Linked DNA regions of Homo sapiens. The protein of the gene in region 1 purifies or fractionates together with the protein of each later gene. This does not show direct contact. Each region holds a gene or a part of one and is shown in the gene's direction. Other genes may lie near its edges.

The links. Proteins that work in one complex are often made in the same cells at the same time.
Region 2: the proteins of TMEM175 (region 1) and SAR1B purify together in Homo sapiens (affinity purification with mass spectrometry; one large-scale study listed by BioGRID and IntAct). This does not show direct contact.

What each region holds. Positions count from the first base shown.
Region 1 is NC_000004.12:952,960-956,459, forward strand, and holds part of TMEM175 (endosomal/lysosomal proton channel TMEM175), read left to right. Parts: intron 1-230; coding exon 231-395; intron 396-2,445; coding exon 2,446-2,524; intron 2,525-2,795; coding exon 2,796-2,931; intron 2,932-3,357; coding exon of another isoform or gene 3,358-3,439; exon of another isoform or gene 3,440-3,500. UniProt on the Homo sapiens protein: Proton-activated proton channel that catalyzes proton efflux from endosomes and lysosomes to maintain a steady-state pH.
Region 2 is NC_000005.10:134,612,329-134,615,828, reverse strand, and holds part of SAR1B (small COPII coat GTPase SAR1B), read left to right. Parts: intron 1-2,796; exon of another isoform or gene 2,797-2,815; intron 2,816-3,072; coding exon 3,073-3,138; intron 3,139-3,500. UniProt on the Homo sapiens protein: Small GTPase that cycles between an active GTP-bound and an inactive GDP-bound state and mainly functions in vesicle-mediated endoplasmic reticulum (ER) to Golgi transport.

The sequences.
Region 1 (3,500 bases):
TCTCTCCACCTCAGCCCCTGTGCCCAAAGTGTCCCAGGTACAAGCCCACCTCTACTCGCCAGGTCCTCCCCCACCCCAAGACCCCTGTGCGCGCGTGCCATGCAGCCCGGGGCCAGGTCCTCCCCACCTCGAGACCCTTGCGTGCGTGTGCCATGCAGCCCGGGGGTTGACTGCTGTGGGGGCCCCCTCTGCTCTTGGGGCCTGTGTCCTACAGCTTGCTTTTCCCGCAGGCACTGATTGTGGGGTACGCATTCCACTTCCCGCACCTGCTGAGCCCGCAGATCCAGCGCTCTGCCCACAGGGCTCTGTACCGACGACACGTCCTGGGCATCGTCCTCCAAGGCCCGGCCCTGTGCTTTGCAGCGGCCATCTTCTCTCTCTTCTTTGTCCCCTTGGTGAGTGCTGGGACAGCCCGTGGGGCCCAGGCAGGAACGGGGGCCACCATAGGAGCAATGTCCCCGCTGAGCAACAAACACGGGGGTGGGGGCAGAGCGCAGACAGGCAGGGGTTCCACCCAGGGTCTTGTGTGTGAGGCCCAGGGCTGCAGTGAGTGGCACCAGGGAGGGAGGCCTGCTCCACCTGAGGCCCCGAGACCCAGCCTGTCGAGGACAGAGACGGACGCTCATCGAAGGAAGGGGCAGCTGAGTGTCCTTCTCAGAGAAGCTTCACGATGACGATGACCAGAAACAGCGACACCCGGAATCCGGGGGTGCATGCGTTTTCTTGTTTTGTTTTTTGTTCATTGAGGCAAGATCTCGCTGTGTCACCCAGGCCGGAGGGCAGTGGTGTGATCTTGGCTCACCACAGCCTCGACCTCCCGGGCTCAAGTGATTCTCTCACCTCAGCCTCCCAAGTAGCTGGGACTACAGGTGTGCACCACCACACCTGGGTAGTTTTGGTATTTTTTGTGGAGACAGAGTCTTGCTATATTGCCCAGGTTAGTCTGGAATGCCTGGACTAAAGTGATCCTCCCGCCTTAGCCTCCCAAAGTGCTGGATTACAGTGTGAGCCACCACGCCAGCCTTTATTTTCTTTTTTTCTTTTTTTTTTCTTGAGACGGAGTTTTGCTGCCAGGCTGGAGTGCACTGGCGCAATCTCGGCTCATTGCAACCTCTGCCTCCCAGGTTCAAGCAATTCTCCTGCCTCAGCCTCCTGAGTAGCCGGGATTACAGGTGCCTGCCACCACCCTCAGCTAAGTTTTGTATTTTTAGTAGACACGGGGTTTCACCATGTTGGCCAGGCTGGTCTCGAACTCCTGACCTTGTGATCCACCCACCTCAGCCTCCCAAAGTGCTGGGATTGCAGGCATGAGCCACTGCGTCCAGCCTATTTTCTTTTGGATAAGGAATCTATACAAAACTGTGTCAGGACAGTAAACATCAAACAGTGTTTGGAGGAGGAGCCCCTGGGGATAAGACCAGTATCTGCTCATGGGGACATCAGCTGTTGGTGCTTGGAGAATGTGAGCCACTAGGGAGAGGGAGAAGGCAACAAAAGCACTGCTGGAGACGTGTAGGTGTCGTGAGTGGCGCCGCTGTGAGCACTGCTGGAGACGTGTAGCTGCCGTGAGTGGCGCCGGTGTGAGCATTGTTGCGTGTGGAGCCACTGTGGGCATTGCTGGAGTGATGCCTCTCTGAGCATTGCTGGACACGTGTCTCTTCAGATCTGTCTTCTCAGGCTGTTGGTGTGTGTGCCCACAGTGAGTTTCTGGGTCATTTGGTGATTCTGTTTAATTTTTTAAGTTTAATTTTTTGAGGAACCACCAAACTTCCACAGCAGCTGCAGCATTTTACATTCCCACCAGCAGCACATGGTGGTTCCAGTTTGTCCACATCCTCATCAACACCTGCTGTTTTTCAGTTCTCTCCATCCTAGTGGATATGAAGAATCTCGTTGTGGTTTTGATCTGCGAGAGGTCGACCATTTGCATGTTTTGTTTGGAGCAATGTCTGTTCTCATCCTTTGCCCATTTTTAATTGGGTCGTCCTTTTATTTTTGAGTTGTAAGAATTTCAGATAGGGAGATAGACGATAAATTTTAAGACACGGTCTTGCTCTGTCACCCAGGCTGGAGTGCAGTGAGCTGGGTCACCTCTCACTGCAACTCCTGTCTCCCAGGTTCAACAGGCACACACAGTCACACCTGACTAATTTTTTATTTTTCGTAGAGATACAGTCTTACTATGTTGCCCAGGCTGGTCTCGAACTCTTGGGCCCAAGCGATCCACCTGCCTCAGCCCCACAAAGTGCTGGGATTACAGGCATGAGCCACTGTGCTGGCTTAAGAATCCTTTACACTTTTTGGGTACTAGGCCCCATCAGATACATGATCTGCAAAGACCCTCCCTTCTGCCGCAGCCCCTGCTTTGGCACACAGCTTTGTGTGGGTAAGGCCTGGCCTCGGACCCCTGTGGAGGGCACTGACCTGCGGTTTGTCTCCCTGCAGTCTTACCTGCTGATGGTGACTGTCATCCTCCTCCCCTATGTCAGCAAGGTCACCGGCTGGTGCAGAGACAGGCTCCTGGGTAGGTGATGACTGGGTGGGCTGGCCTGAGAGGCCTGTAGTCCGCCCACCTCCGTGCGGCTGCTCCGCACTGAGGGCTGTCCGTGGGCCGAGGCCCGTGTGCGTGGTGGTGGCTGGGGCTCCCCCACTCCGCCCCTCGGGCGTCCCTGTCCTGTCTCCTCTCCTGGCCTGCACATTCCAGGCCTCTTCATGGATGAGGGCGGTGACAGCCACGCGGGCTCTACCTCCACATGGGGGGTTTGGCCAGCTCCACCCTCCTGGCGTGTCCCCAGGCCACAGGGAGCCCTCGGCTCACCCAGTGGAAGTCTTCTCGTTTGACCTCCACGAGCCACTCAGCAAGGAGCGCGTGGAAGCCTTCAGCGACGGAGTCTACGCCATCGTGGCCACGCTTCTCATCCTGGACATCTGGTGAGGACCCCGCGTCACCTGCCCCAGCTATCAGGTGGCCAATGTGTCTTGAGTCCCTGGCGTCTCATCCTGGAAACCCCAGAAAGGCACAGGGGTCTTGGCTCCACCCTCCTCTGGATGCCTAGAGTTTTGTGTGAGGTCAGGGCAGCCCCCACTTCAGGGAGGACAACCTTCCCGGCGGCCCCTCCCTTCCCAGCGGCCCCTCCCTTCCCAGCGGCTCCCACCCCAAGCACAGCCGAGGATGGGGTGCCAGGGTGAGGTCAGCACCAGCAGCCAACTGCTCTCCTCACTCCTCTCAGAGGGGCTCAGCAGCCATGGGTATCCCCCTGCCCCAGGCCTCACCCCTGCCCCAACACCAGCCCCTCCTAGTCCCTAGTCCCTCCCATTCCCTCCGGCTCCCTCCCAGTGCCCCCCATCGCTTCGCAGCCCCTCCTGCTCCCTTTGGCTGGCTGTTGCTTCCTTCCAGCGTCTGCTCCTCCGCGGCCTCATCTGCCTCTTCGTCTGTTAGAGCGCGCGTCTCGTCTCAGTCGTCACGTTTTTGGTTTTTGTGGGGTTTTTTTTTTTTTTTT
Region 2 (3,500 bases), on another chromosome or scaffold:
TTGTTATTTTTTGAGACGGAGTCTTGCTCTGTCGCCCAGGCTAGAGTGCAGTGGTGCAATCTCGGCTCACTGCAAGCTCCGCCTCCCGCGTTCATGCCATTCTCCTGCCTCAGCCTCCTGAGTAGCTGGGACTACAGGCGCCTGCCACCACGCCCAGCTAATTTTTTGTATTTTTTTAGTAGAGACGGGGTTTCACCGTGTTAGCCAGGATGGTCTCGATCTCCTGACCTCGTGACCCACCCGCCTCAGCCTCCCAAAGTGCTGGGATTACAGGCGTGAGCCACCGCCCCCGGCCCAGAATTTCTTCTTATTTTCAGACAGAATCTCTCTCTGTTGCCCAGGCTGGAGTGCAATGGCGCAATCTCGGCTCACTGCAACCTCCGCCTCCTGGGTTCAAGTGATTCTCCTGCCTCAGCCTCCTGAGTAGCTGGGATTACAGGCACCTGCCACCATGCCTGGGTAATTTTTTTTTTTTTTTTTTGAGATGGAGTCTCGCTCTGTTCCCCAGGCTGGAGTGCAGTGGGGCAATCTCGGCTCATTGCAACCTCTGCCGCCAGGGTTCAAGCGATTCTCCTGCCTCAGCCTCCCTGGTAGCTGGGATTTCAGGCACCTGCCGCTGCACCCAGCTAATTTTTTGTATTTTTAGTAGAGACGGGGTTTCACCTCGTTAGCCAGGATGGTCTCGATCTCCTGACCTCGTGATCTGCCCATCTCGGCCTCCCAAAGTGCTGGGATTACAGGCGTGAGCCACCGCGCCCGGCCCCCAGAATTTCTTAAGAAGATAAAAACTCTGGGCTAAAGTAGCTACACTAAAACTTATGTTGTCATTATGGGGCACTTGTGCTTTTGGCCATAAGTGAGTACTGGTTCTGGAATTACCCTCCCACTGTACACAACTAGAAAACCGGACAAAAAAAGATGCTACAACTGTTTTCAGACATTGGGCAACAGCTACCACAGGACTGTGATTCCTGAGAGAAAGGAAACAACTCTATTTTGGTTTTATGCCAAGAGGTAATTTTCAGACCATGGTGCAAAGAGAGGACACCCAAACATAGTCCAATAGTCTTGCTGAGTTGAGGAGATGTAGACCAGAATTTGGAAAGGCCAACAGGACTAGAATTTTTTTGCTAGGACAGAGAGGAGGGAGTACCGGAGAGGAGGGACCTCTGGAGAGAAAGGACTCTAGAAATTTACATAGCTGAATACCAATCTGTGCATGCAATGGGTAAAGCTCCAAAAGGCTAGTCAAAGAACAATTGTAAGAATGCTGTTAGCCAAATAATTACTAGAGCTCTCATGGGGCCAGGAATTGTTGTTTAATCCCATTTAGCCTTCTAACAAATGTTAAAAACTGATCTGTAAGCAAGTGAACTGTCAGAACAAAATTCAACCTTCTTCAAAAGACTACAACAAAATCCAGCACTCAATATGAAATTACTAGACATGCAAAGAAACAGGAAAGTGATTCAGTCAGTAGAAACAGACACAAGTGTGACAAAGATGATGGAATTAGCAGATTAAGACATAAGACAATCGTTATGAATGTGCTCAGGGATTTAAAGGAAAACACAAACATGAGGAAAGAAATGGAAGATATAACACAGAATCAAATGAAACTTCTAGAAATGAAAAATACAGTATTTGAAATGAAAATTTCTTTTTTTTCTTTCTTTCTTTTTTTTAATAGAGACAGGGTCTCCCTGGGTTGCCCAGGCTGGTCTCGAACTCCTGGGCTCAAGTGATTCTCCCACCTTGGCCTCCCAAAGTCTGGGCTTACAGGTGTGAGCTACCATGCCCAGCCTGAAATGGAAATTTCACTGGATAGGATTAATAGTAAATTAGATAGTGCCAGTACTGCAGAAAGAAAGACCACTAAACTTAACTCAATGCAACAGAAACTCCAGAATGAAGCACAGAGAGAAAAGTGACTGAAAGCAAAATAAACAGAGCCTCAATGACTGGTGAGACAACATCAGGCAGTCTAACAAACCTGCAACTGAAGTCCCAGAAGTGGAAGGGAGGAGAAAGAAAGATAGTTATGGAAATAATGGCCACAATTTTTTATGGTAATTGTTTTTGTAATTAAAGACTGTCTTATGTCAGCCATAAGAGAAAATTATTTCACCTGTATCATTTAAGATGAATTATATGAACAATTATTAGATTGGAGCAGTTATTTGAATTCATAGCAAATAATTGTCTGAAGAGATTAACATTTTCAGCAGGAAGAATAGAGAAGGAAAAATAAATGTTGGATTTGTGGTGAGTAGAATACTAGAACTGAATATTACAATTATTTGTTATATTGTCAGTATGAATTGGTGTATATCTAATTACAAAAAAGTATTATTGTACCAGTTTGTAAATGTTTGATTTGACCTTATTTGCAATAAAAGTAAATCAAACATTAAGTAGTAAATATAAGCTATTGTTAGAAATGCTTGTTCCCTGGTGCTGTAAAGGATAGCACTTGAACATAAATTTAATTTCCTCAGCAAGGCCATTTTTACTTTCTGCAGAAAGGGTACACTTGCCAGCAGTTTTGCCACAAGAGTACACCGAACAAAGGAGACAGGGTCATTTATAATCTGATGCGTCCACCCTACTGCTGTGTCCGGTTTCCATTGGCTGGAATGGGACCTCACATTCTGTATTTGTCCTGATTGGCTAGCAACTTAGAACTTTTTAAAAGAGGCAAAGGCAGAGGAGAACAAAGGAAGGAGGAAGTAACTTGTGGAATGCTGAGAAAGGTAAAAACACCTTCAAATAAGGAAGAGGAACAGGCTATGACCTAATGCTTGCTTGGACCAGTGTAAGTATGCCAGGGCAAATATTTAGGCTAAATTGTGGGAGCTAAGAACATAAAGTACATTGATTTCTTTATTACGGCTGGCAGATATTTAAGAATGTTAGCACGGGTCTTTGAATCAATTTTGCTTCTAAGAGAAGTTACTATTTATTCTTAATTAGATGGGGAGGAAAGTCTTTGAAAAGGAACCTCTACTTTACTTTTTACACGATTAATGGGTTTCTAATTTTCATGTAAAAATATTTTAAAATCTTATTTAGCTTCCGAAGAACTGACCATTGCTGGCATGACGTTTACAACTTTTGATCTGGGTGGACATGTTCAAGGTAAGATTCTTTTTTTTTTTTTTTTTTTTTTTTTTTTTTTTTTTTTTTTAGACAGGCTCACTCTGTCTCCCAGGCTGGAGTGCAGTGGTGCAATCTCAGCTCACTGCAACCTCTGCCTCCTGGGTTCAAGCAATCCTCATGCCTCAGCCTCCCCAATAGCTGGGATTACAGGCATGTGCCACCGCGCCCAGCTGATTTTTGTATTCTTAGTAGAGATGGGATTTCGCCACGTTCAAGGTAAGATTCTCTTACTCTTACAGTCACTTTGTTTTATTTTAACTTAACAAAAATGTGGCCATTAGTTCTAGTGCATGAAATCTCATTCTAGTCACGCAAGGCCAGAGTAGATTTAAAATTTAGGG